4 linked regions of the Homo sapiens genome follow. The protein of the gene in region 1 purifies or fractionates together with the protein of each later gene. This does not show direct contact. Each region holds a gene or a part of one and is shown on either strand. Other genes may lie near its edges.

Evidence for each region.
Region 2: the proteins of BCL7A (region 1) and DPF1 purify together in Homo sapiens (affinity purification with mass spectrometry; 4 studies listed by BioGRID and IntAct, with this or other methods). This does not show direct contact.
Region 3: the proteins of BCL7A (region 1) and ARID2 purify together in Homo sapiens (affinity purification with mass spectrometry; 4 studies listed by BioGRID and IntAct, with this or other methods). This does not show direct contact.
Region 4: the proteins of BCL7A (region 1) and DPF3 purify together in Homo sapiens (affinity purification with mass spectrometry; 4 studies listed by BioGRID and IntAct, with this or other methods). This does not show direct contact.

The regions. Positions count from the first base shown.
Region 1 is NC_000012.12:122,024,692-122,032,108, forward strand, and holds part of BCL7A (B-cell CLL/lymphoma 7 protein family member A), read left to right. Parts: intron 1-6,008; coding exon 6,009-6,090; intron 6,091-7,417.
Region 2 is NC_000019.10:38,214,161-38,221,577, forward strand, and holds part of DPF1 (zinc finger protein neuro-d4), read right to left. Parts: intron 4,899-7,417; coding exon 4,771-4,898; intron 4,503-4,770; coding exon 4,413-4,502; intron 3,717-4,412; coding exon 3,638-3,716; intron 3,432-3,637; coding exon 3,300-3,431; intron 2,244-3,299; coding exon 2,193-2,243; intron 2,100-2,192; coding exon 1,980-2,099; intron 1-1,979. UniProt on the Homo sapiens protein: May have an important role in developing neurons by participating in regulation of cell survival, possibly as a neurospecific transcription factor. Belongs to the neuron-specific chromatin remodeling complex (nBAF complex).
Region 3 is NC_000012.12:45,732,423-45,739,839, reverse strand, and holds part of ARID2 (AT-rich interactive domain-containing protein 2), read right to left. Parts: intron 1-7,417. UniProt on the Homo sapiens protein: Involved in transcriptional activation and repression of select genes by chromatin remodeling (alteration of DNA-nucleosome topology). Required for the stability of the SWI/SNF chromatin remodeling complex SWI/SNF-B (PBAF).
Region 4 is NC_000014.9:72,764,804-72,772,220, forward strand, and holds part of DPF3 (zinc finger protein DPF3), read right to left. Parts: intron 7,091-7,417; coding exon 6,930-7,090; intron 1-6,929. UniProt on the Homo sapiens protein: Belongs to the neuron-specific chromatin remodeling complex (nBAF complex).

The sequences.
Region 1 (7,417 bases):
CAGTTAAATTTGAATTTCAGATAAACAATGAAAGATTTTTTTAAAAATAAATGTTTTTGAGTATGTCTCATGCAATATTTGGGACACACTTATACTAAAACATTATCTAATTTATCTGAAATGCAAATTTAACAGGGCACCCTGTATTTTACCCAGAGGGAAGCCGAAGTGTTTGGCAGATCATTTGGCCCCATGAGCCTTGGGTGGGTTTCTCCTCAGCCCTAGTGACCCCTAAAATTACCCCCCCGACCCACCCACTGTCCCCTGATGCTTCCCCCACCCCCGGAAAAAGCTGTGGCCTCCCTCTCATTTGGGGCAGGCTGCCTCCTGTTCTCTTTTTCTGGTGTTTCAGCAAGGCAGGCCAGTGGAGGTGAGGTGACCAGAAGATGGCTAAAGGGAAAACAAAATGGTGGGCCTCTTTTTGGGAAACTGGGCCAGGGTTTGGGGGCCCTGTGCTGGTGGAGGAGAGAAGACCCCAGGGCGATGGTAGGAGACGAAAGCTTGGGCTGCAGCGTAAGCTTGGAGGCCCGCTGCGGTGGCTCACGCCTGTAATCCCAGAGCTTTGGGAGGCTGAGACAGGAGGATTGCTTGAGCCCAGGAGTTTGAGACCAGCCTGGGTCTCAAACCAAAAAAAAAGAAAAAGAAAAAAAAGAGCCGGGCGCGGTGGCTCACGCCTGTAATTTCAGCACTCTGGGAGGCCGGGCAGGCGGATCACGAGGTCAGGAGATCAAGACCATCCTGGCAAACATGGTGAAACCCCGTCTCTACTAAAAAAATACAAAAAAATTAGCCAGGCGTGGTGGCGGGCGCCTGTAGTCCCAGCTACTTGGGAGGCTGAGGCAGGAGAATGGCGGGAACCCAGGAGGTGGAGCTTGCAGTGAGCGGAGATTGCGCCACCGCACTCCAGCCTGGGCAACAGAGCGAGACTCCATCTCAAAAAAAAAAAAGAAGAAGAAGAAAAAAGAAAAATTAGTCTGGACGCAGTGGCTCATGCCTGTAATCCCAGCACTTTGGGAGGCCGAGGCAGGCAGGTCACCTGAAGTCAGGAGTTGGAAACCAGCCTGGCCAACATGGTGAAACCCTGTCTCTACTAAAAATACAAAAAATTAGCTGGATGTGGTGGTACACGCCTGTAATCCCAGCTACTCTTAAGGCTGAGGCAGGAAAATTGCTTGAACCTGGGAGGCGCAGGTTGCAGTAAGCCGAGATCGCGCCACTGCACTCCAGCCTGAGCAACAGAGCAAGACTCCATCTCAAAAAAAAAAAAAAAAAAAAAAGAAGAAAGAAAAGAGAAAAGGCCGGGCACGTTGGCTCACACCTGTAATCCCAGCACTTTAGGAGGCCGAGGAGGGAGGATCACGAGGTCAGGAGATCGAGACCATCCTGGCTAACAGTGAAACCCCATCTCTACTAAAAATACAAAAAATTAGCCGGGAGTGGTGGCAGGCGCCTATAGTCCCACCTACTTGGGAGGATGAGGCAGGAGAATGGCATGAACCCACGAGGCAGAGCTTGCAGTGAGCCAAGATTGCACCACTGTACTCCAGCCTGGGCGACAGAGCGAGACTCCGTCTCAAAAAAAAAAAAAAAAAAAGAAAAAAATTAGACAGGCATGGTGACCCTCGTCTGTAATCCCAGCTACTCAGGAGGCTAAGCCTGGAGGATCACTTGAGCCCAGGAGGTTGAGGCTGCAGTGAGCTACGATTGTGCCACTGTACTCTAGCCTGGGTGACAGGGTGAGACCTTGTCTCAAAAAACAAACAAAAAAAGTAGGCTTAGGCCCAGGACCCCTTAGCACCTGGTCTGAGGGTTCCCTCAATGACTTGCTGTGAGGACTGAGAAAGGTCTGTGCCTGAAGAGCTCCCGTCTGTCCCAGGAGAGGTAGAGGTTTGGGCCTGAGGCCTCCCTCACCTCAGCTCCTCCAGAGGTTTCATCATGGAGACATTCCTACTGGGCACATGGCAGGTCAGGCAGACCTGGGCCTAGCTAGGGTGAGGCCAGCCATGGGCCAGGCCTCTTGAGGTGACAGGGACTAGCCATGAGGAGTGAGTACAAGGACAGGGAGTAGAGCTTTCCTGGAGGGAGTCAGCAGGGTCCCCTTGAGTGGTGGGTAACCCTAAGATGGTCTTGTTGGCTAACCCTTGGACCTGGACACAGGAGAACATTCGAAATTGGCCTTAGCCTGGAGAATCTGGGATGGATTCTTGTAGTTTATATAGGAGTCCGTGCTGGGGAGGAGCAGTTGGGGCTATATTCCTACTGCTGGGACCTCATTTTTTCCTTTCCTCCCAGAAGCTCAAGTGTAATGGGAAGGGAAAGGTGTTGAAGTCAGGGTAAGGTGACGGGGCCGCCAAGACAGGAGGCGCGGGGCACACCCAGGGCCAGCTTTGCAGCAAGTTGGGCTGCAGCCTGGTGGTTGTGGGGATTTCTGCACCTGGTGCTTACAGGTGTCAAGAGTGAGGGCATCTGAGGGGGGCCAGAGAGCCCATCTGGGGCAAGCTGTCGCTCCCTGGGGCATGTGGGCCCAGGTCATGTTTTCAAGAGTAGCCAGAAGTCTGGATTCTTATGCAAAGCCTGTTTTGTTGTTTGTTTGTTTGTTTGTTTGAAGTTTGGCAGCAGATTTAACATTTTTAAAGTACTGTGCAGGCCAAACAAAACACGCCTGTTGACTGGTTGTTTGCCATCCTAAATATAAAGTGGGGCCCATGTGTGGTGGCTCACACCTGTAATCCCAGCATTTTGGGAGGCCAAGGCAGGAAGATCACTTGAGCCCAGGAGGTCGAGGCTGCAGTGAGCAGTGATCGCACCACCGCACTCCAGCCTGGGCAACAGAGGGAGACCTTATCTCAAAAAAATAACAAATAGGCTGGGCACAGTGGCTTATACCTGTAATTCCAGCACTTTGGGAGGCCAAGGCGGGTGGGTCACCTGAGGTCAAGAGTTTGATGTCAGCCTGGCCAACATGGTGAAACCCGTCTCTACTAAAAATACAAAAATTAGCCGGGCGTGGTGGCATGTGCTTGTAGTCCCAGCTACTCAGGAGGCTGAGGCAGGAGAATCGCTTGAACCCGGGAGGCGGAGGTTGCAGTGAGCCGAGATTGTGCCACTGCACTCCAGCCTGGGCCACAGAGCAGGAGTCCGTCTCAAAAAAATAAAAAAAATAAAAAAATAAGAAAGTGATGAGTATAGCTTAATACCCTCATTGGGGAAGAGGAGCAACGCCCTTTTTTGGGGAGGGGTATGTGTTCTGTGGTGATGGTTTTGGGGGGCAATTGTGGGAAACCTCAGCTGCTCCGCTGAACCCGTGTGCCCACCCAGTGTGTCTGTGGCTGTGAAATCCCATGTCCTCCTGGGTGCTCACTTGGTGCCTTAAACTTGAGCTCCATGGCCCCTCCGGGTGGCTGCTTAGCTGAGCATAGGTCCAGCTCAGAGGTAGAATTCTTAATGTTCTTGCCTCTGTCCCAGAGTCCCCTCAATGTCCACACCTAGAAATACAGTTTCTCATCACTGGGGTAACTTGAGAACTCGGTGAAGAGGTTGCCAGTTGGGGCAAAGAGAGGCACGAAAGCCTGGCTGCATTCAGCTTGTAGCCTGCGGTGGCCTCGAGCCTCGCTGGGAAGCAGCTGCAAACTTGCATCTTGGCTGATTTGCGGCCGCAAAGCCCAGATCTCTGGCACACTTTCTGCCCTGAAAGGTGTCCTGTGTGTTACAAGTCAATTACTTTTTTTTTTTTTTCCCAAACACAATCAAACCTTGAATGGGTTGATTTACTGGGAAGCTGGTCCAGGGCTCATGAGTAATGAATGGCTTTGGCCAATCTGCATGGAGTCCTGGCAATTTGTCATTCTTCCTCCAGCTTCTGTTACCCTGGCGCTCCTTTAGAATGATTCTTGGTTTTCATGGCCAACAGAATAGCAGGAGGTGGTGTCTGGGGTCCGAGCCCAAATCTAATTCTCTTCTGCCACTTCCTGTCTGTGAGACCCCAAGCTAGTGGTATAACCTCTCTGGGCATCCTGTTTCTGCATCTGTAAAAAGGGTGACAATCGTCCCCCTCTTGTAGCCTGTTGGGAATCCCAGGGAGAGAGGGTGTGTAAGTAGAGTGCTTGGCGTGGAGCCTGGCATGTAATAGCCTGGGCACACAGTGGCTATTGTGATGGTTGCTCTAACAACTGAGGTTCTTCCCAGGAGCACTCGGTCTCTTCTGGACACCTTCTGATTGCTCAGAATTGAGGAGGGGAAAGGTGGGCATTGTGGTTTGTCTGCTCTGCCCACAGGAGGCAGGAGACGGGCCAGTGGACTTAGACACTCGTCTTTCCTGCATCGTTTCTGGGTGAAAAGGTGCAAGGAGGAGGGAGCAGAGAGGCTGGTCTCAACAGCTGTGCTGGGTGAAGGGTTCGAGTGCTGGCTCTGGGAGAATGAGTTCACCTTCACCGCCCTGTGCCTCGGTTTCTTTATCTGTCAAATGGGGAAGTTGCCATTTCCTGCCGGATGAGCCGGCACAGTCCTTGGTACATAGAAGGCGCTAGGAATGGCCACTGGTATAATAAGAAAAGCCGGGCCGTAGCGTCCTCTGATGGAACACGTGGGACCCGAGCGGGCAGGGTTTTTGGGGGTGAGGTGTCTGTGGTTTCGGCTGGCTGGGTTTGAGTATGCTCCGTCATCCCGCAACCCCCGTGGTGACAGGGTGGGAGTCCTGTAACCTGTCACACCAGCATGTGAGGGCCACATGCCCCACGAGGGGGTGATCTAAGGCTGAGTTTGGGCAGAGAGGCCAAAAAAAGGTGCCAGGCAGCTCACGGACAGAGGTGCTCGTGCCACACAGAATTCTCAGTTCTGGGAATTTTTGTCACCAAAATTGCTGAGGACTCGGGCAGCTACGTCGCCTGTACCAGGGGTGCGCCTGCCCCAACAGTGCCTGCTGGGCCCCTTAAATCCGCCAGCCTCCTAGCTGAGCCATCAGTGGCTCCTTGGTGGCCTCGCAGGTCTCCTGATCTGGCAGAGTCTTGATTTAGGAGCCTCGGTTCCAACCCCAGCCCTGCTTCTGGGAGGCTCTCCTGAGCCTCAGTCCCCTCAGGGGTGTGGCTGCTGGGTCTTCGTGGCGGTAAGGGACAAGTCGGAGTGCAGGGGGTCAAGGACAGGAGGTGGCTGGCTGTAGCAATAATCGGAAAAATGACAGTGGCTCGGAGCAGAGTGGTGGTGGTGGAGGAGAGGGTGGGCATTGTTATCTCGAATGAAAACCAGTCCTGTTTGCTTCTGTGGCTTGTAAGTTTCTCCTCATCCATAAACCTGCCTCTCACAGTGGGGGGTCTGGACTCCGTCCTTCAGGCGTTTGTAATGCAGCTGGGGTGACCTTGCAGACAGGGTCACTAGGAGCCCTGAATCAGGGGTGCAGTTCCCCTCCCACCTGGCTGCACCCACACATTCAGGCTGTGTAACCTCCTTTCGGGCCGAGGTCACCACTCCCTGGCTCTCCTTGGCCGCCACGAAGGGCATTCTTCCGGCAGAGTGTGGGCGGCTCCCCGGCTTGCCTGCTCATGCCTCCCCTGACCTCAGACGCATCGCCCAGAGGGCAGGAGGAGCCCCGGGGTGTCCTTGGTGACGACTCCACCCCCCATGAGAGGAATCGGCCTGCTGGCCTGAAGCCCTCTCTGCTGCCCAGACAGGCGCGGGTGGCCCAGTCCACTGGCTGCGTGGCATTGGCAGTGACACAGGAGGAACCTGGGCCCGACTCGTGCCACCCATAGGAGTCCTTGTAATGGCAGCCCCACCCTCAGCCTTTTTGGCGACAGCCTGGAGAGGGCAACCACCCTATGTGGTGTAACGGGTGGAGAAACCAGGCTTAGATGGGTGATGTGGCCTGCCCAGGGCCTCCCGCTAGTGAGGGTGGAGCTGGGATTCCAACCCTCATCTGTGTGATCTGGAGCTTGCTCTCAGCCCCAAGGGAGTGTGGCCTGTGTCCCCCAGGGATGAAGAGTCCCCGGTAACAGGCTCTTCCTCATCCTCCTCAGGGAGAAGAAATGGGTGACCGTTGGTGACACATCCCTACGAATCTACAAATGGGTCCCTGTGACGGAGCCCAAGGTTGATGACGTGAGTATGGAGGGCTGGTCCCCTGGGGTGGGCCACCCATTCGTGCTCCTCCCACCATGGGGAGGGAGATTGTCCACTGCTACCCACCGTGCTGGGGCTCTGGGACCAAGAGCCCCTGGGAGTAGAAGGACCCAGATTAGACCTGGGGAGGCTGCTGTACCAGTCCCCACCCCTCCCACTCCAGCCCCAGAGTCTGGCCCTCAGAGCGGTGGACGGGGGGATCCCGCAAGCTGTGTCTTCTTCTTCTTCTTCTTCTTCTTTTTGATACAGAGTCTCACTCTGCCGCCCAGGCTGGAGTGCAGTGGTGTGATCTTGGCTCACTGCATCCTCTGCCTCGTGAGTTCAAGCGATTCTCCAGCCTCAGCCTCCCGAGTAGCTGGGATTACAGGTGCACACCACCACACCCAGCCAATTTTTTCGTATTTTTAGTAGAGACGCAGTTTCACCGTGTTGGCCAGGCTCGTCTTGAACTCCTGACCTCGGGTGATCCACCTGCCTGGGCCTCCCAAAGTGCTGGAGTTAAGGCGTGAACCAGTGCGCCCGGCCTGCAAGTTGTGTCTTCTGGGCCGAGCGCCCCCCCCAGGGCTTGGCACTGTGTTTTGGGGCAGGTGTGGTGGTGCCCACAGTTAGGCACGTTCTCCCCACCTTTGTGGTTCTGTTCCTGAGCCTCTGACCATCTGCCAGGCCCTGGGCTGATGCCTCACATGTGGCATCTCCGTTATTTTTCCTACTCAGCCTGTGGAGTTGATCTTTTTAACCTCTCCTCTGTACAAGTGAGGGCACAGGCTCAGAGAGGTGAAGCCACTTCACATGGCTCACCTCAGAGCTGTGAATGGAGCTCAGGTCTGTCTGACTCCAAAGCGCAGGTTCTCTCTGCGCTTGGAGAGGCTTCTGGTGAGTGGAGCTGCTGGTGACAGGGGTCCCCGGTGCTAGGAAAGCCTGGTGTAGGGATGCGGGGCTCCAGGAGGGCTCCAGGAGGGGTGGCGCCATCCCGACTTCCACCACTAGAGGGAATGCGAGGCGCTGTCCTGTGATGGCTGGCAACTGCCCCGAGCAGACAGTGCTCTCCCAACTTCGTGGTTCCCAGGCCAGTTACCTCCAGAGACCCCTCTCATTTCCATCCCAAATCAAGAACAGTCTGCCCCATAGGCCTTTGCCTGGGCCATTCCCCCCTGCCTGGACTGCCTTCCGTATTTACTCAAACTCAGTCCTTCTACCTGGGAAGATGGCGCAGACTAACCCACATGGCTGCGGCCACTCCTGGGAGTGACGTAAAGTCATGATTGGTAGGTTTGGGGTGGGGGAAGCATGTGGGGGTCCAGCTTCC
Region 2 (7,417 bases), on another chromosome or scaffold:
CTCTCCCAGCCACAATGCCATGGCAACCACCTTCCACAACGGGGTCCCCACACTTCGGTTTCATGCAACTGAAGTCCATTCCACTTGGTGCCCCAGCAACAAAACTGTTACTCACATCACAGCACTGTGCAGCGCCAGGCTTAGTCATTCCACAGCCCCGCTGCAGAGACACCCGCAGCCGCTACCTGCAGCCACGACCCATGGCGCCCGCCCCCTGCAACCACGGCCCCGGTGCCATCACAACTACATTCCATTATACTGAGTTGCCATGACAACCATATTTCACTACCCATGATGCCACGACAACCACAATTCATGACCTACTGTGCTGAGGCAACCAGAGTCTATATTGCCCACAAGCCCACCATGGGAAACCACATTCTGTTAACCACAACTCTATGGCGAGCTCATCCTGCTACCGGTGCCCAGGTGGTGGTGTCCGTCACTCACACCACACAGCCCACTACCTGCCATGCCTTGGCCCCTGTCTCTTGCTACTCCTTTTGTCTTGTTTTGGTTTTTGAAACAAGGTCTCACTCTGTTGCCCAGGCTGCAGCATAGTGGCACCATCACAGTGCACTCTGCAGCCTTGACCTCCCAGGCTCCAGCGATCCTCCCACCTCAGCCTCCCGAGTAGCTGGGACTAATGGGGTGCGAAACTATGCCCAGCCTTTTTTTTTTTTTTTTTTTTTTGAGACGGAGTCTTGCTCTGATACCCAGGGTGGAGTGCAGTGGTGCAATCTTGGCTCATGGCAACCTCTGAGCCCCGGGTTCAAGCGATTCTCCTGCCTCAGCCTCCGGAGTAGCTGGAACTACAGGCACGCACCACCACACCCAGCTAAATTTTGTATTTTTATAGAGATGGGGTTTCACCATGTTGGCCAGGATGGTCTTGATCTCTTGACCTCATGATCTGCTCGCCCCAGCCTCCCAAAGTGCTGGGATTACAGATGTGAGCCACATCACCCAGCCTGGCCTATTTTTTTTTTAATAGATGGGCTCTCATTATGTTGCCCTGGCTAGTCAAAAACTCCCAGATTCAAGGGGCTGGGTGCTGCGGTGGCTCACGCCTGTAATCCCAGCACTTTGGGAGGTCAAGGCAGGCAGATCACCTGAGGTCAGGAGTTTGAGACCAGCCTGGCCAACATGGTGAAACCCCCGTCTCTACTAAAAATATTAAAAATTAGCCAGGCATGGTGGCGGGTGCCTGTAATCCTAGCTACTCGGGAGGCTGAAGCACAAGAATCACTTGAACCCAGGAGGCGGAGGTTGCAGTGAGCCAAGATCATGCCAATGCACTCCAGCCTGGGTGACAGAGGGAGACTCTGTCTCAAAAAACAAAACAAAACAAAACAAAACAAAAACCTTCTGGGCTCAAGCGAGCCTCCCACTTCAGCCTCCCGAGTAGCTGGGGCTAATGGGGTGCAACACCATGCCCAGCTAACTTTTTTTATATATAGATGGGATCTCACTATGTTGCCCAGGCTGGTCTCAAACTCCTGGGCTCAAGGGAGCCTCCGGCCTCAGCCTCCTGAGTTGCTGGGATTACAGGTGCACAACAACACACCTGGATAATTTTTAAATTTTTTGTAGAGATGGGGGTCTTGCTATGTTGCTCAGGCTGGTCTCAAATTCCTGGCCTCAAGTGATCCTCCCACCTCTGCCTCCCAAAGTGCTGGGATTACAGGCGTGAGCCACCACACCTGGCCTCTCACTACTCTTGATGCCATGCTAAGCACAGGCAGCTACCCACAGTGCCATGAGAGCCACATCCCATTATCCCTAAAGCCTCACTGATCCGACCCAATTCCCACAATCCTCAGCAGTTGCATCAGCCTCGCTAGCTCTGGTTATCCACAGTATCCCCTACATGCTCCGGGTCCCCTCGGTCCTCACCGCCTTGCCTCCCTCCCTCCAGGTCTGCACTCCTGAATGTCCTCTGCACCCGGCCCCCAGAAACCTCAGGTGGGGAGCATCACCTGATCGCCCACAGTCCGCACAGGAGATGAGGTCCTCGGGACACCCCGTCTTCTTGGAGCCCCCCAGGCAGAAGTCACAGTAGCCGTTGGGGATGACAGTGCCGTCGGGCGCCTTCTTGGCTGCAAGACAGCAGACAGGCATTGGCACGGGGCAGGCAAGGGCACCCCGCAAAGGTGGCTGCAGACTTTAGGAGCAGAAGGAGGCATCCGTACCTGTGTGTTTCCTTTGTGCCTCAGGGACCCAGGCCAATTCTTTGTAAAACTCTGGGGTAGGGGGGACAGAGAGAGGGACTCTCACCACAGGCAAGGCTCCACCCTGCCCCCAGCCTCAGCCCCAAGGATGGACCTCTTAGTCCAGGCGTGGGGAGCTGGGAAGAGTGAGTAGCTACCCCAAGCTGTGGGGAGAGGTGAAAACAGTTCTCATCGGGACTCCCAACTCTGCCTTTTTAAATTTTTTTTTCAATTAAAAATAAAGGCAGGGTCTTGGTATGTTGCCCAGGCTGGTCTCCAACTCCTGGCCTCCAGTGATCCTCCCACCTCGGCCACTGCCACAAAGTGGCGGGATTATAAGCGTGAGCCACTGCACCCAGCCAGGATTCCCAACTCCTTGAGACAACTGACATGTCCTCTTTATTGGGTCAAAACTTGGTAGACAGCTTGAGGAAGGGCTCCCTGCCTCCCTTCTCACATACATGTCTCCCAGCCAGCCACTCCCAACTGCACCCTCAGTAATTTGTATCTAACAAATTCAGCGAGTACCCCAGCCAAGATCTGGTATGGAAACAGACACTCGGAAGAAAAACTCCGAACACTGAGGTGCGTGGGTGTGTAGTGGCCAGGGGTGAAGACACTCAGCCTCTGCCTCTGAGAGATAGGTGGGAAGACAGTGTCTCCCTACTGCCTCTCCCAAACCCTCCTCCCCTCCCCCATCCTTCAGCTGTCAGAACTGGCATGGGATTGGCAAGGGCGGAAGCCAAGGGCTCCCAGGCCACAGACCCTGCCCCTTGACCAAAGCTTAGCAGAGAAAGGAGAAAGGGAAGGCAGGGCGGGAGGGGAGCCATCTATCACCCCCCCTCCCCAAGCTCTAATTGAAACAATAAATCAGACCCAGAAATATTACGCCCGGCCAGGAGCGAAGGAGCGATGGTTGGTTGCCATGGCAACCCCGGAGCCAGCATCCCCATGGTCGGTGGGGGGAGGGAACGGCTGAGCTGGAGATTTTCCAGAAATGTCTAATGCCCCCCCACCCCCACCCCCAGCTGGGCTCCTCTTCCCCACTCCCAGGGCCCCTGGCCACCCCCACCTGGCCTGCCAGCTCACGTTTATGGTTGTTTTTCCGGTGGAAGGGCAGGGCGTGGCGTTCGGCGTTCTCCTCCCCCTCCTCCTCGGCCAGGTGGGTGTGGGTGTAGTGGTAGCTGAGCCCCGGCCGGTTCTTATACCGTTTCCCACAGACTGGGGAGCGAGCGAGCCAGGAGGGCCTGTCAGCCCCTCCGGGCCCCTGCCGCCTCCACCCTGGCCTCCAGGATCACACCTCCCCCCTCAGCCAGAGACCTGAGCAGCCTCCCAACCCGGGTCTGGAACGGGAGGGAGAGGGCCACGAGGTGGGGAGTCTCTGGGCACCCCTCTCTCTGCCTTTCCCCCTCTTCAGAAGGACTCACTATCACAGACATACGGCTTGTCTCGGTCCTCCAGGGAAGCGGTGTCCTGGCGTTTCCGGAGACCCCCGATGCCATATGCCTGTGGGGAGAGTCAGGAGTGAGGGGCCAAGAAAGTGAGAAAACAGGCCAGGCGTGGTGGCTCACACCTGTAATCCCAGCACTTTGGGAGGCCGAGGCAGGCGGATCACGAGGTCAAGAGATCGAGACCACCTTGGCCAACATGGTGAAGCCCCGTCTCTACTAAAAATAGAAAAATTAGCTGGGCATGGTGGCGCGTGCCTGTAGTCCCAGCTACTCGGGAGGCTGAGGCAGGAGAATCGCTTGAACCCGGGAGGCGGAGGTTGCAGTGAGCAGATATTGCGCCACTGCACTCTAGCCTGTGACAGAGCGAGACTCCGTCTCAAAAAAAAGAAAAAAAAGAAAAAAGAAAGTGAGAAAACAGTGTCTTTTGCAAATTCAAATTGCAGCTGTACAAATGTCCTAGCTGTGGGGCCTTGAACCTCTCCAAGGTTCAGCTTCTTCCTCTGTGGCATGGGGATGAAGGTAGCTCTAACCCACTGCATAATCTCTGCTTTGCAAATGGCTTAATACAGATGAGCCTCAGTTTCCTCATCTGTAAAATGGGTATAAAATCCCCCACCCCTGCAGGCCGCTCTGGGGATTCAATGAGGTCAGACTGAGGTCAGACTGTGGCAGGGGCGGACCACTGCACCTGCTCCATGAATGAGACCTGTCATTGAGGGGAGCGGGGAAGAGGAGAAGCTTGGGGTGATACCTTTCCTTTGGCCCTGTTCTTCCTCCTGGGAATGTCATCCTCCAAGTCTTCCACCTCGAGGTCATGCGGAAACTCCAGCAACTGCTGTTTCTGGGCAATAGAGAAAGGAGACGGGTCAAGAAAGTGGGGGCCACTGACCTGCTTTTGAGGGGCTCTGGGCAAAGGTGGAGATTGGGGGTGAGAGTATAAGTCAGGAGTTCTTCCAAATAGAGATGAAGTCTGGGAGGATGGTGACTGGGATGCCCAACAGCCAGAAGAAACCGGGGGGGTTTCAGAGCAGGAACGTGAGGGCCCGGGCTGGTGGCAGGCAGGGGTGAGACGAAGCCATGCAGCGGGGGTCCCCCAGAGGTGGGCCCACCTGACAGTCCATAATGGTCTCCTCCTCCTTCAGCTCAATCTTCTTCTCCCCCGTCTCTGCACACAGTAGAGCCTCGAGGACCGGCCCTTCCGGGAGGCCACCCTCCTTCTTCAGGGGTGCTTCACAGTCTGGGGACAGGGCCATGGGGGGGTCAGATGGGGAAGTTGACCCCGGAGGACTCCTCAAACTATGCAGGTGGGGGGACCATGCTCTTTGCAGGAGGGAAGAGGCTGCAGAGGCAAGGATTTAACCACATGCCCTAGGAGGGAGGCCCAGACTCTGGGGAGACCCAGTCACGCCCTCAGATGCCCTGGGATGCACAGCAGGAGACACGGTCAGAACTTTGGATACACCAGAAAGCCTCAGAAAAAGACACAGTTAGGCCATCAGGCACACCCAGACCTACTCAGGGAAGACACAGCGACTCTCAAACATACCCAGACAAATATGGACAGATCCAGACACTCGCAGAGGAGACACAGGGACACCCGCAGGGGACATCCAGACAGATCGTCTGAGACAGATGCGGGAAGGAAGAGGCCCAGCCATGCTGTCTTTTTTCTTTTTTTTTTGAGACAGGGTCTCGCTCTGTCACCCAGGTTGGAGTGCAGTGGCGCAATCTCAGCTCACTGCGACTCCCAGGCTCAAGTGATCCTCCCACCTCAGCCTCCTGAGTAGCTGGGACTACAGGCAGAGTAGCTGGCATGCTACCACACTGGGCTAATTTTTGTATTTTTGGTAGAGATGGGGTTTCATCGTGTTAATCAGGCTGGTCTCAAACTCCTGAGTTCAAGCGATCCTCTGCCTCGGCCTTCCAAAGTGCTGGAATTACAGGCATAAGCCACACTCTCAGATACAGCCTAGAGACTCAAAGAGGTATAGCCAGATCCTTGGAGACACCCAGACACAGGGAGGAGACATAGCTGGACCCATGGGTACACTCAGAAATGCTCAGAGACAATTAGCTGGCCAGGCGCGTTGGCTCACACCTGTAATCCCAACACTTTAGGAGGCTGAGGCGGGTGGATCACTTGAGGTCAGGAGTTTGAGACCAGCCTGGCCAACATGGTAAAACCTCATCTCTACTTAAAAAAAAAAAAATACAAAAATTAGCCGGGTGTAGGGGCACATGCCTGTAATCCCAGCTACTCAGGAGGTTGAGGCAGAGAATCACTTGAACCCGGGATGCGGAGGTTGCAGTGAGCCGAGATCGTGCCACTGCACTCCAAACTGGGTGAAAAAAAAAAAGAAAGGAAGAAGGAAGGAAGGAGGGAAAGAAAAGAAAAAGAAAGAGAGAGAAAGAAAGAAAGAAGGAAGGAAAGAAAGAAAGAAAGGAAGGAAGGAAAGAAAAGAAAAAGAGAGAGAGAGAAAGAAAGAGAAAGAAAGAAAGAAAGAGAAAGAAAGAAAGAGGCCGGGTGCGGTGGCTCACGCCTGTAATCCCAGCACTTTGGGAGGCCGAGGCGGGCAGATCATGAGGTCAGGAGATCGAGACCATCCTGGCTAACACGGTGAAACCCCGTCTCTACTAAAAATACAAAAAATTAGCTGGGCGTAGTGGCAGGCGCCTGTAGTCCCAGCTACTCGGGAGGCTGAGGCAGGAGAATGGCGTGAACCCAGGAGGCGGAGCTTGCAGTGAGATCGCGCCACTGCACTCCAGCCTGGGCGACAGAGCAAGACTCCGTCTCAAAAAAAAAAAAGAAAAAGAAAAAGAAAAAAGAAAAAAAGAAAGAAACAATTAGCCCTCCAGATACACCTAGACCCTGGGGAAGACACAGCCAGATGAGATGCTTGGACACATAGCGGGGAGATACCGACATACTCAGGGAGAATCACTCAGCTAGATACACACAAACACACACAGGAGACAGACAGGAAGAGACACAGCCAGGTGGGCACTGCCACGCTCCTGGGTACACACAGACCCTCGGACTCAGGAAGAGAAACTGACCCCGAGGATCCCGATATTCCTAAACACATTCAAGGGTAAGTCCAGATCCTCTGATGGACTGGCACACACGTGCAGAAATACACCTGATACGCCAGACACCATCAGGAAGATTCTCCCAGACACTCCGAGGCACCCACACACCCACAGAAAGAGACGGCCGCACCGCCTAACACACCCAGACACACTCGGGAGGAGCCGGACACCCTGACAGACCAGACATACACAAGACACAAGCCTTCTAAGACACTTGGAGACACCTGGGAAGATACACCTAAGAGAGGAAAGAGCTCCAACCAGACACTGAGACATCCAGACGCCCTTGGGGAGATACAGAGGCAGACACCCTCAGGCACCCACAGAAAAAAATACAGGCAGATGGCCGGGCATGGTGACTCAAGCCTGTAATCCCAGCACTCTGGGAGGCCAAGGCAGGTGGATCACCTGAGGTCAGGAGTTCGAGACCAGCCTGGCCAACATGGTGAAACCCTGTCTCTACTAAAAATACAAAAAAATTAGCCGGGCATGTCAGTGTGCATCTGTAATCCCAGCTACTCAGGAGGCTGAGACAGGAGAATCGCTTGAACCCACTAGGCGGAGGTTGCAGTGAGCTGAGATTGCGCCACTGTACTCCAGCCTGGGTGACAGAGCCAGACTCCATCTCAAAAAAAAAAAAAATACAGGCAGACTGATCCATCCCAG
Region 3 (7,417 bases), about 76 Mb from region 1:
TTCCTTGACCTATTGTAATAGAAGAATGTTCCCACTGATCTCATGTATGTTTATATTAACATTTTATTTATTTAAAATTAATCGCTGGGCTAGCATAGAGACAGAATAAAATTTCACCCAAAAACACTTCACCATGAAAGATACGTATTATTTAATAAAGATCATCTTTGTGCACACAGCAATTGACTACTGGCCACTATATATAAATACTTATCAAGTATGACAGTAAGAACTCAGAAAGACCAGAATTATGAAACCTGGCCATATTTTACAATAAGATGTTTATCCAAACAATAGATTACACAACTTTATTTGAATTCTTCATAAAAAGTAACTTTCTGCACTCCAGCCTGGGCGACAGAGCCAGACGCTGTCTCAAAAAAAAAAAAAAAAAAAAAAAAGTAACTTTATATTTTATCCCAATTATATGGTAGTTTTAAAAATTATTTACTGATACAAATAAAAGCCAAGCACACCTGGAACATGGAATATACCTGCATAAGATGAATAGCAACTATGGATAATGTAGGATTATCTATAAGACAATTAAGACAATGCTCTGGCCGGGCGCAGTGGCTCACGCCTGTAATCTCAGCACTTTGGGAGGCCAAAGCAGGTGAATCACCTGAGGTCAGGAGTTTGAGACCACCCTGGCCAACATGGTGAAACCCCATTTCTACTAAAAAAGCAAAAAAACAAAATAATTAGCTGGGCATGGTGGCGGGCACCTATCATCCCAGCTACTTGGGAGGCTGAGGCAGGAGAATCACTTGAACCCAAGAGGTGGAGGCTGCAGTGAGCCAAGATCACACCACTGCACTCTAGCCTGGGTAACAAGAGCGAAACTGTCTCAAAAAGAAAAAAAAAGACAACACTCTGTAAAATGTACAGCAGGTCTATCAGCAGGGAAGGGAATGGGAAGGTGAAGCAGGGAAAGTAGGGTCTGAAAATATGTAAAATATCCTTTCCTGACTAGCAACTGTGGCTGACACTTAAGGCTGGGAGTTGGATATAACCTAAAGCCTTAAAAAAAAAAAAAAAAAAAAAAAAAAAAAAAAAAGTAGCCCATATGCCCCAGGAAGAAAAAAGTTTGGGTGGCATAAAGAATTTTTTCCCTTGCTTTTATACATAAAAAAAGAAAGAATATTTTTCCTAGTTGTTATTTTTTCTAAGATTAAATAACACAATTACTTCTCAAATTTGAAATGATAAAAATAAAATCTCCGGCCAGCCGGGTGCAGTGGCTCATGCCTGTAATCCCAACACTTTGGGAGGTCAAGATGGGTGGATCACCTGAGATCAGGAGTTTGTAGACCAGCTTGGCCAACTGAAACCCCATCTCTACTAAAATACAAAAATTAGCCGGGTATGGTGGCACACGCCTGTAATTCCAGCTACCTGGGAGACTGAGGCAGGAGAATCACTGGAACCCAGGAGGTGAAGGTTGCAGTGAGCCAAGATCATGCCACTGCACTCCAGCCTGAGTGACAGAGAGCAACTCCGTCTCAAAAATAAATAAAAATAAATAAATAAAATCTCCCATATGAAAATGTTTTGAAAAACAAAGCTGGTGGACATTAAACAAAACAGGTTATTGTTAGTATTATTACTTTCACAGGAATTTATACATGTTAACTCTACTACGAAATACCAGGACAGACCAACAAAATTTTCACAAACAAGCATCCAGTAAATTCAGTAAAACAAATGGTACCCCATTTGGAAAGAATATAGTAAAGTTCTATGAGAAAAAAAAACCATACATATATGTAAAGAAAGTTCTCCAATTAGGAATAAGTGAGGAACACTTATTTTTAATTAATTTTTTTAATCCAAATTACATAAACACACTTAGGATAAGTTAGAATTTGGTAGTTCATTTACTCTTTTTTTCCCTTAACTAAAGTGGAGCCCTTGTTACCTTCTCTAGAGTCCAGAGACAAAGTATAAGTGTGTCCAAGCTGTGGTCAGAGATGACAGGTGCAGCTTGAGCAGGTGCCCCTAGACCAGATGTCACCTGGAGGTTTTGTTCTGGATGTAACCCTGACCAATATGTTCATGCCATGTTAAACTAGTCATCTCAGCAACTAAATTGGTTTCATTACAATACTTAGATCAACTGTTCTCAAACTTCAGTGTACTTAAGAATCACCTGGAGCACTTTTTGGAAATACATATTAATCAAATTATTAATACCTAAAACCACTGTTCAATCTTAGCATCACTAAAAGGGGACAACTAAACATTATATGCCTCATGATATGATGAAAAGCACAGCAGTACCTATCAAGTATGCCTAAAATATTAAATCTGAATATTATTAACCTTTAGATCTATCACTTTTCAGCAAATATGTATGAGGGATAGAGGAACAAGTTAATTGACACCAAAAGAAAGCAATCAAAGCCAGAATTTAAGACAGTCTAAAGAACAAATTGACCCCTTTACTCCAAATCAATGGTATAATGGGGAAAAAAAGGGCGGGGGGAGAGGGAAGGCAGCAGCCAAAACATCAAAACCAGCACATTCTCCCTGGGGCTCCACCAAAAATTTCTATGGCAGTAAGATGGGAGTGAAGCCCTGTAAACGCTGACTTAGATATTCATGGAATATGGGTCTATCATTTTTGGTCAACAATTCAGAATGTGATAGCTATTCCTGGACATCACTAAGAGACTTCCATTCCAGCAATAGTTTATTGCAATGTATTTAGTCAAATGAATTATCAATTCACAACATAATGAATACACAGAAAGTATCCAAGCACAAGTGAAATTTATGTTTTAAAACAGAAAAAAGTTTGTTATTTCTTTTATCACATTATAGTTTAAACAGTAGAAAATGTATAGTTGTGCATCTCTTAGGTTGGTGCACAAGTAATTGCAGTTTTGGCGATGGTGTTACACTATTTACTGTGGGGTGAAACACTGGTGAAACACTATTTACTATGGGGAAGGGAAGAGAAGTAGTAATGTTTCCCCAAAATGTCTAGAGATCCACAATACACATTAGCAAAATAAAGTCTCTAAGAAGTCCTGCAATAAAGTAACCCAAGTTTAGCCTTTTGCTCAAGTTCATTTCGTCTTCTTTTCATGGAAATATATTAACATTTCTGGAAAACTAGTGTTTCTAGAGTACAAACTCTAGTTGGCCCTGAATACCAAAGACTGTGGTGATCAAAGCAGCAAAAGGAGAATCCCCTCAACCCCATCCGTCTGCTCCATTTATCCTCTATGTCCTTCCCAATTCAGACAAAATCCATTTTTATCATTAAACTTTAGTAGGTCTGGAAAACACCCAATAAGCACCTTCACAATATAATTAAAACTTTTAAATACTTTACCTAAAAATATATATTAAGTACCTGCTCACTGACTAATGAAATGCAGTTAAAACTGTGTTTTTCCTTCCTTTCCAACTTCTAATTTCATTCAGTTTGAGAATATAAAATATCTAGTAGCAATATACTTTTTTTTTTTTTTTCAGACGGAGTCTCGCTCTGTCACCCAGGCTGGAGTGCAGTGGCACGATCTCGGCTCACTGCAAGCTCCGCCTCCCGAGTTCAAGTGATTCTCCTGCCTCAGCCTCCCGAGTAGCTGGGACTACAGGTGCATGCCACCACGCCTAGCTAATTTTTTGTATTTTTAGTAGAGACAGGGTTTCACTGTGTTAGCCAGACTGGTCTTGGTCTCCTGACCTTGTGATTCGCCTGCCTTGGCCTCCCAAAGTGTTGGGATTACAGGGCGTGAGCCACCACGCCCGGCCACAATATACTTGTCTATCAAAGACGTTATAGATTTCACACGATCAACTATGAAAATACTGAATCCACAACAAAGCAGAGATAGGATTATGAAAGAGTGCTTCTATTCAGGGACATTTTTAGTTAACAGCTAAGGTAGAAAATTTAACTGCAAAAAAAAAGCATATAAACATTTTTGGGAATTATAATGTTCTCATTTTGTATCCTCAGGAAAATTTGTAACCTCAGTGAAAACTATCTGTCTTAGAAAGAACTCAATTTATTTCTACTTTGGGCAATTTAAGCTCTAAAAACATGGATTCTAAGACATAACACTAACCTAGCTGAGCTTTGATAAGTCTTTCAACTTTCTCCACTTTCTGCTCTTCCTTTCAACAAGTCTGCATGTCCTTTAAAAACGTAACAGAATATCAGAAAATATCAAAATCAGGTTTTTTGTTTTTTAAAATGGATACACTGCCAGGCTCAGTGGCTCACTTTTGTATCCGAGCACTTTGGAAGGCTGAGGCACAGTGGCTCACTTTTGTATCCCAGCACTTTGGAAGGCTGAGGCGGGAGGATACCTTGAAGCCAGGCATTCAAGACAAGCATGGGCAACAAAGCAAGACCCCTGTCTACACACACACACACACACACACACACACACACACACACACACGATACAGTTTATAAAGTTAAATTTGAAATACATGCATGAATAACTTATTGATATATTTGTCTTCCAATCTCCATATACTTTTATTTTCCTTCCTTGAATAAGAAGGGCAATCAGTTTATTCAGTTCCGTTTAGCAATTTACAAACTCAGTGCTTATATACCTAAGGCTTTCTCTTAAAAGAATTGATCTATATGGTGGACACTAACTAGAGAACACATGAGTGTATTCATTCAATTTAACTAACAAATGTAAACTCCCTCAAATGGTGTAATTTAAGAAAGAGCTTTACCCACCAAGAAAAAAAAAATAGAATAAATTCACAATGCGATTGAAAATGTACTATGGTAAACATAACTCTACAATTAAGTTTCTGACTATTCTAAAGGTAGGTACATATAAATAGAAATGAATATTTCAGTGCCAGAAAACTAGTAACATATAGTTTTGTACAATAAATTTTTAATGTCCAAGATATTTCACCCCCTTTCCAAAAAAATCAAGTTTTATAAAGGAAACATCAAGTTAACCTTGACTATAGCTGTAATATTGGCATCAGTAAGCAAAAACAAAATTTTAAAATATTTGAAATATTTACCTAAATCTTCATACCAAAACTTCAAATTCTTAACCCAGATAAGACCAGCAAACTGTCCCCCAATTTCAACAACAAAACAGAACAAAAAATTAAAATCCACCAAGTAAATATGGAACACATTAGGCAAAGAGATACTTGGGCATAAATTTAACCATAAGTAATTTCCAAATATTATTGAACACGTCATGAACACAACATTTTGGTCCAATTAATGAAATGTTCCCTAAGCCATTTAATTTTTTTTTTTTTTGCACTTTAATATCTCCATCTACAAAATGTGGGAAACTATACCTTATCCTTTCATACTATAGGAATATCCTAATAATAAACATTGGTGGAACACATTGAGATGTACATGCCAAGAAAAGGAACTACATGAAAATAAAGTGCATAAACATCACAGATGATTAGTATCCAATTTTTAATTTATTTATTTTATTTTATTTTATTTTTTTGAGAAAGAGTCTCACTCTGTCGGCCAGACTAGAGTGCAGTAGCACGATCTCCGCTCACTGCAACCTCCGACTCCCGGGCTCAAGCAGTTCTCCTGCATCAGCCTCCCAAGTAGCTGGGATTACAGGCATGAGCCACCATGCCAGGCTAATTTTTCTATTTTTGGTAGACACGGGGTTTCACCATGTTGGCCAGGCTGGTCTCAAACTCCTGACCTCAGGTAATCCGTCTGCCTCGGCCTCCCAAAGTGCTGAGATTACAGGCGTGAGCCACCGCACCTGGCCTCCAATTTTTAAATAGACTGCTTTTACACATTATCTGTAAGCACTTTACTTTTTTTTAATTTTTAATTTTTGTGGGTACACAGTACGTGTATATATTTCTGGAGTAGGTGAGAAACTTTGATACAGGCAGGCACTTATATTTGTAAAAATTAAATGCCAATGTTAAAATAATCAATTGCATTTTCAATTTTAGACTCTAAGAAATTTTTGTAGACAAGCTATAACTGAATAAATGTATATTTGAGAAAATTAAGTTAATGTCTGGCAGACCATTAATACTCAAGTCTATATTTAATGACTGTCAATATTTGTATCAAAAATAACAAAACACTATTAAAATATACATGGCCAGCATACTAGCTTGCTCTTCCTAATTTAAATTATCTGTAATATTATGAAGATATATCATAAAACACTAGGCTAACAGCCATCCATCCAATTAATAGCAAACTTACAGGGGAATGTGAGCAAATATTAAACTTGTAAAGGAGGAATAACACATATAATGACAGTCTTACAATAGGTCAAATGAAAAAGCAGTTCATATTAAAAAATTATTCCACTTGTAATTTAAAAAACACACTGCATTATCTGCTCATCAGTAATGATGATATTCAATCTGACGTAGCAAAGAGGTAACTTATCAAGTCACTCGATTACTATTTCTTACTATGAAGAGCCAATCTTATGGGTAGGTAATAGAATTGCTGTTACTTGGCATCTTGTCTGCCAATTAAGATTTTTCAGAGGAAGGTGTAAAAGCTAGCATCATATATATCCTCTTACTGTGCAATATTAGACCACCAGGAAAAAATTCTTTCAAGGTTGGTAGTACCTAAGTTTTGACCAGCATATTTCTTTTGTATTTCTTTACAAGCCATGCAAATCTTCACATGGTTTTATTTTCCAAAACAAATGCTTCAACTTTTTTCCTAGTAGCCTAGCTACAACCCTGCAAAAACAAACCTAGAGAGTGACATATGGAGGAAAAACAAGTTTAACTAAGGACATAGTTCAAAAAGCAGCTTCTAATAAGAGCAAAAAGCCCAATTTGATCTGAAGACCATGTAAATACTTACAATGTTGAAACTATATAGTTAAAAACAGTACCTATAATTAATGATATCCTCCCAAGATAAAAATGACAACTGGAAAAACAATATTTATAATTAACTTTTGTTAAAAAAAATTGGAAGCCTAGATATTAATTTGATTATGCTAAAACTATTAGTATGAATGTAAACTCTTCAGAAAAATATACATCTCATGAATCATGTATATTCTATAGTACTTTCTGGTTATAAAACTTAAGTCAATCAATCTAACAAATATGAAGCAAAACTTCAAAAATATGTATTTCAAACAGTCCAAAATTCAAATGCTTTAAACTGATAAAAACATAAAACCAGAATATGTATTAACATGTTCCTCTCAATATCATAAATAGAAATGAGCAAATGAATGTCACGATGAATATAAAACTCTCTTGTTTCTCACCCCACTACTAACTCAACGGTTTTGGAGGTTAATTTTGCTTTTTGATTTAGCCCTTTAATTTAAAATGTACTCTGACACAAATGCCATCACACACACACAATAGATGACAACCATATTTAATATTTTCTAGACTTCCTGTGTAACTCAATAACTACTCCACAAAGTTC
Region 4 (7,417 bases), on another chromosome or scaffold:
TCCAGCAAATGATCAAACATGAGGGGCAGTCATGGAAACCTCCATTTATAGCCCATAGGTCAGAAGCACAGCTGACAACCTGGACTTGAAATTGGCATATGAAGTTGAGGCAGTGCTGTGGGCTGAGCCCTTAGTCTGTGGAATCTGACGATATCTCACAGTAGATAGTGTCAAAGTTGAGTTAAACTGTGGAACACCCAGTTGGTGTCCGCAGGGAATTGGAGAATTGCTTGGTGTAGGGGAAAAGACATCCACACATCTGCTCACAGAAATATTGAGTAAAAGTATAGAGAATAAAACAGTTTATTTTCCCTCACAGATGGCAAATAAGCACATGTGAAGATGCTCAAAATCATTATTAACTAGGGGAATGCAAGTTGAAACTGCAATGAAATACTACTATATATCTATTAGAATGGCTAAAAAAATTTTCAAACTGACCACACCAAGTGTTGGCAAGGATACAAAGGAAGTGGAACTCTCATATATTGCTGGAGTCAATGTAAAATGGTACAACCACTTTGGAAAAGAGCTTGGCAGTTTCTTTAATAGTGAAACATCTATCTCTCTTATGATCTAGTTGTTCTACTCCTAGGTAGTTAACCTCTCAAGGAGAAAGGAAAGCATATGTCCATTCAAAAACTTGTACACAAATGTTCATAGTGGCTTGATTTATAGTAGTCAAAGACTGCAAACAAATCCAAATGTCCATCAACAGGTGAATGGATAAATTAACTGTGATACAGCCATGCAATGGACTACTACTCAGCATAAAAAGGAATTATTGATATAGTATTAATTAGTAATTATGCTAAGTGAAAGAAGCCAGACATGCCCTTGTCCCTAAAAAAGGGAGTACACAGGCCGGGTGCGGTGGCTCACGCCTGTAATCCCAGAACTTTGGGAGGCCGAGGCGGGTGGATCACGAGGTCAGGAGATCGAGACCATCCTGGCTAACACGGTGAAACCCCATCTCTACTAAAAATACAAAAATAATTAGCCGGGGAGGCTGAGGCAGGAGAATGGCGTGAACCCAGGAGGCGGAGCTTGCAGTGAGCAGAGATTGCGCCACTGCACTCCAGCCTGGGCAACAAGGCGAGACTCCATCTCAAAAAAAAACAAAAGGGAGTATACAGTGTGTGTTTCTGGTATAGAAAGCAAATCAATGGCTTCTCTGGGGAGGGAGTAAAGAAGGGTAGAGGCATGGAGAAGCGCAGGAAGGATAGATTTCTAAACACATAGGAAACCTTTGCGAGTCATGGATATGTTCATTATCTTGATTGTGGTAATGGTTCCACAGGTGAATATATGTCAAAACTTATCAAGCTGGACACATTAAGTATGTGCAATTTATTGTATGTAATTATACTTCAATAAAGCTGTTAAACTTTTTTAATAACAAGGCAATCTCAGGGACTTCTGCTTCTGGAAAGATGAAATAGATACACTTTTTTATATTCCTCTCACTAAGCACAACTAAATATCCTGGACATTATTCATAGAACAGACATAAGAAATAACTGAAAGATGAAGGGAACCAGTCAGACCAGCTAGGGACTTTGGGACCTGAGAAACAACAGGGTGGGTGGTGAGCTCCCTGGGTATTATTTTATCTATCTACCTATCTATCTAGCTATCTAACTATCTAGCTAGCTAGCTATTTATTGAGACAAAGTATCACTCTGTAGCCTGGGCTGGAGTGCAATGGCGCAATCCTGGCTCACTGCAGCCTCAAACTCCTGTGCTTGAGCAATCCTCCCACCTCAGCCTCCCAAGTAGCTGGGACTACAGGCACGCACCAACACACCTGGATAATTTTTTAAATTTTTATAGAGACAAGGTCTCACTATGTTGCTTAGGCTAGTTTCGAACTCCTGGGCTCAAGCAATCCTCCTCCTTTGGCCTCCCAAAGTGCTGGGATTACAGGCATGAGCCTGTGTCCAGCCCGATCTTGGGTCTCCTTTATGCCTCATATATCCTGGACTGGATTCTGGAAAAGCTGATAACCCAGAAACACCAACAAATGAAGACCAAAAAAGACCTCAAGAAAATCCTGCTCTCTCTAGCCAGAGAACCAGGAAAGGACCAGCCTAGCAAGACAAGCAGGCATCCCAATAGCTTTGCTGGGTTGGTGTCAGAGAAGGCCAAGGGAAGAGCTGGTGCCTTGTGGTATCAGTAGAGGCCCTCCTCCTCCCAAGTAGGATAATACCAGTAGAGGCCTAGTGGGGAGCCTGAACTCCCACCTCCACTCAGCAACAACAAGGTGTTCTTCCCCTGTTAAAGAGGATGTCAACAGAAGCCAAGTAGAGAAGATGGATTTCCACATCCATCTGACAGTAATAAGGGGAGCCTCGCCTCCCCTACTAGCATAGCTTGAAAGGAGACCTGCTAATATAGAAGATTTAAATAATATCTAGCGTCTCATAACATAACAGCCAAAATGTCCAAGATTCAGTCAAAGCCACTCATCTTATGAAGAACCAGGAAAATCTCAAATGAGGAAAGACACAGACACCAACAAGAAAATAACAAAAATGTTAGAATTATCTGACAAGGATCTTAAAGCAGCCATCATTAAAAGTGTTTCAACGAGCAATTATGAACACATAAAACACATTCAGCAAAGAAATAGAAAATATGAAGAACCAAATAGAAATTTGAAAACTGAAAAAAATTGTAACAAAAAATAAAAAAGCTCTCAATGGATTGGCTTAACAGCAGAAGGCAGAGGACAGAATAAAGAAGCAATGAACTTGAAGAGAGAACTATAGAAATCACCCAAGCTGAGCAACAGAGAGAAGAATTTTAAAAATAAATGAACACAGCCTCAGGGACTTATGGGACTATAACAAAAGATCTAACATTTGTGTTGTTGAAGTCCGAGAAGGAGAGGGGAAAGAGGGTTGAACTGAAGAAGTATTCAAAGAAATAATGGCTGAAAAATTCCCAAATTTGGCAAAAAAAAAAAAAAAAAAACCCCATAAACCCACAGGTTGAAGAAGCTGAGTAAACTCAAACAGAATAAACCCAAAAAATCTATGGCAAAACACATCAAAATCACGTTTCTGAAACTAAAAACAAAGAAAAAACTTGAAAACAATGAGAGAGAAATGACACCTTACTTATAAGGGAAAAAAGCATTTAAATGACAGCAGATTTCTCATCACTAACCATCAGAAAGAAGTGGCAAAACCTTTTTCAACTGCTAAAATAAAAGGACTATCAACTCAGAATTTTATATCCAGCAAAAATATCCTCCAGGAATGATGGCAAAATCAAGACATTCTCCACTGAAGGAAAACTAAGAAGTTGTTACCATCAGATTTACTCTAAAAGAATGGCTAAAGAAAGTACTACATCAGAAAGTAAATGCTAAAAGAAGGAATCTTGGAACTTCAGTAAGTAAGAAAAACAACGAAGGAGTAAAAATATGAGTAAATACAATAAACGCTTCTCTTACGTTTTCTAAATTATGTTTGATGGTTGAAGTAAAAATTATAACACTGGTATGGTTTTCAATGTATGTAAAGGAAATGCTTAAGACAACTATATTATAAAGGGAGGAGGGTAAAAGGATTTAAATAATGAGTGTTGGGTGGTAATAGAATAGTTTTGTATCTTGATTGTAGAAGTGGTTACACAAATCTAGACATGTGATAAAATGGCATAAAGCTACATATACACATTTTACCAATGTCAGTTTTTTGGTTTTGATATTGTAAGATGTATTAATCTTGGAGGAAATTGGATGAAGAAGATAGGGGATCTCTATTATATTTGCAACTGCAAATTGCAAATACAGTCACAATTGCAATTATTAATTATTTCAAGATAAAAGTTGATTTAATAAAGAAGAAATTATATGAATCCCCTCCCCACTCAAAAAGCAAACCCTGATAAGTGAAAGCAAAATGAAACAAATAAATCCAACTGTGTATTGAGTTAGTGGCACAATCACACAGAGGAACTATCTCAGTGACCTTAAAGGAGAGTAATTTGGCTGCACATGTTTAATGGAATATACCCTAAGGACAAAAAGACTTGCAAAAAAAAGAAAATATCTTAAACCTTTTTCAGTAATCTTATTGTTAATAGTCATATTGTTTGTTCTGATACTGTGTGTGAGTGTCTGTGTGTGTGTGTGTGTGTGTGTGTGTGTGTGTGTGTGTAAAATAAAGCAAATAAGTAATTACATCAATATCATTTCTAGGATTTTTTGGTGTAGGAGAAAGGAGATACAGAATTAAGATACTTAAGTAAAAACTGTTTAAATCTAAATTGAATGGGATGTATCAACATAATTTCATAATGTATTTTCTCTTAAAAAGAAAAAGAAAAAAACAAATGAATACTATTTCTTAGTTCTAGTCACTGATAAGGCCTAGAAACAATGACCAAGCCAGGAGCAATGAACAGCACTGCGGTCTCTAAGTAACTTTTCCTACAAACAGGAGCCAGGATTTCTTCAAGAAATAGCTGATTTCAGTCCTGGAGAGGAGGAAGTGTACAGGATGAGCTTGAAATATTTCATCCTAATATTAGGATGGCAAGAAGGCCATCAGAAACTACTGGGGTTGTTTCAAAACACCAGCACTGGGCCGGGCACGGTGGCTTACGCCTGTAATCCCAGAACTTTGGGAGGCCGAGGCAGGCGGATCATGAGGTCAAGAGATCAAGACAATCCTGGCCAACATGGTGAAACCCCATCTCTGCTAAAAATACAAAAATTAGCTGGGTGTGGTGGCATGTGCCTGTAGTCCCAGCTACTCGGGAGGCTGAGGCAGGAGAATCGCTTGAACCCGGGAGGCAGAGGTTGCAGTGAGCCGAGATCATGCCACTGCACTCCAGCCTGGCTACTGAGTGAGACTCCATCTCAAAAAAAAAAAAAAAAAAAAACACATCAGCACTGGCCAGAATCCTGAATGGCCAGAGATGAGGCAAGATAAGCCTCATAAGAATAATAGCTACACTGGATTAAAATACATCAAATATGTTTAAATCTGTGAGTTCCTGGTGGTATTCAAAAAAATAATTATTATTATATTGATCGTCTTTGGAGAATGCTAGGGAACCAACTCATTATTTTGAAAACTGGTAAATAGAGGGGAAAAAAGTCATTTATCCTGCCTTTCATATGTGAACTGTATCTCACAATAACTAAAATTTTAATGAGGGAATGTTTTTCTTTATAGAAGTTGTAGAGCTAACAAATGAAGATATAATGATAGTCCTGGATTGAATATTAACTTTTTGCAACCCTTAATGGGATAAAGAATCTAGGCAATTATCATGAAGGGCTGCTAACATCAGTAAAAGAGGTAACCAGACTGTATGAGCCTCTTGATGAAAGTACACACTACCACTCAGGAGTTGTTCTTACCAAAAAAAAATGGAACCTGAATAAATCTCTAGACCTAACTACCAATTCACAGTAATAACACCATGGGAACGCAACCAAATCCTTCTGGGAAACCCTACAGCGTAAGCAACCCAGTGTCTTCAACAAGTAACATGCAAGGAGGAAAGAGAGAGAGGCAGAGACAGAGAGAAACCCAGAGATGTTAAAAGACACATTAACCAGTTGCAATGTAGGGTTCCCATTTGGATCCTGATTTAAACTACAGGGGGAAAAATGAATGTTGGCCAAATATTTGATGATATTAAAGTCTTATTGCTAATTATTTGAGCTCTGATAGTGATTGTGAGTGTGTTTGTTTGTTTAAGTTCTTTACCATTTAGAGATACATAACAAAATATTTACAGATGAAATCACGTGCTTTTGTGGATTTGCTTCAAAATAAAATGAGGTCAGGGAGAAAAGTAAGGAGTGCGTATAGATGAAACACGATTGACCATGAGTTGAACATTGTTGAAGCAGGGCTACATGGGGATGTGTTTTACTATTGTCTTCAGTTTTATATGAAGGTGAAATTTTTCCAAATGAAACATTTTTAAAAACATATCCAGGCAGAGCCAGAAAAATCACATTCCTGTAGCTGTCTCCCTAATAAAAAGGTCTTTATTCTGTTCTTTGCAGCCTAGAAGACTAGTGTCACTGTAGCTGTAGTAATAACAGTAATATCAATAATAATAGGCCAGGTGCAGTGGCTCACGCCTGTAATCCCAGCACTATGGGAGGCCCAGGCAGGCAGATCATGAGATCAGGAGTTCGAGACAGCCTGACCAACATGGTGAAACCCCGTCTCTACTAAAAATACAAAAACTAGCTGGGTGTGGTGGCGCACGCCTGTAATCCCAGCGACTCAGGAGGCTGAAGCATGAGAATCACTTGAACCCGGGAGGCGGTGAGTCGAGATCGCACCACTGCACTCCAGCCTGGGCAACACAGCAAGAGTCCATCTCAAAAAAAAAAAAATAACAATAATAATAATAATACCCAGCATTTTGGAAGCACATACTTGCTATGTGCTAAACTCATTTAAGAGTTTTTATAAATTTTCTCATTTAATTCAGACGAAATCTTATGTGGTAAGTACTATTATTATTCACATTTTACAGATGAGGAACCTGAGGGACAGAAGTTTGGTGACAAAGGTAAGCCTCACACCCAGATCTAATGGCAGATTTCCGGCTTGTAACCAACACCCAAAGGTAAAAGATGAAGATTGCTGTCATGTCCTCAGTCTTGCCTTCTTTGGGATAAACACCTTTAGCTCTTTCACTCCCCACCCCACCCCACCCCTGCCACATGGCTTCAATGCCCCACACCATCCTTGTCACATTCCTTGAAACACCTGCCAGGAGCCATAAAAGTAGCTGAGCTTCTTTAAGGTATCTCAGAGGCCCATGTGCAGCTTGCCCCACCCCGATCCTACCCAGGCTGCCTGGTTTCCCAGACAAGCTGCGGTCCTCCTCCCTCCAGGCTGGGAGCCTGCACATGCGCATGTCCCAGGAGTGGCGCAGCTCACCTGGGCCTCGGTGCCTCTTCTCCATCCAGATGTAGCAGTTGTTCTGGGCCACCCCAGTCTGTGAGTCCAGGAAGGGAAGACGCACGCTGCGCTCTGCACACAGCCGTGAGTTGTAACTCCGGCAGTGCTCAATGGCTTCCTTGTAGAACTGGTCCCCGAGCCTGCCAGAGTCAGAGAGTGAAGGGGTGAGGCCAGGGAAGACTGAAACACACCCAGAGGGAAACACACCCAGAGGGAAACACACCTCCCTGGAAAGACTGAAGACCTCCCAGTTATGAAGACCAAGGCAATGAGCACCAAGAGCCTTGCCAATGAGCAGAATGCAACTCAATGTCAGGTCTTGACTAGATTTTATTTTCTATCCCAAATCCACCAGGCAACTTAGAAACTCCTTTAACAAAGAGCATGGGCTTCCAAGGATGAATCACCAGTAAGAGAGAGCTGTCCATGTTCTAGGAAGCATGAGGTCCCACTCCAGAAGGGAAGTA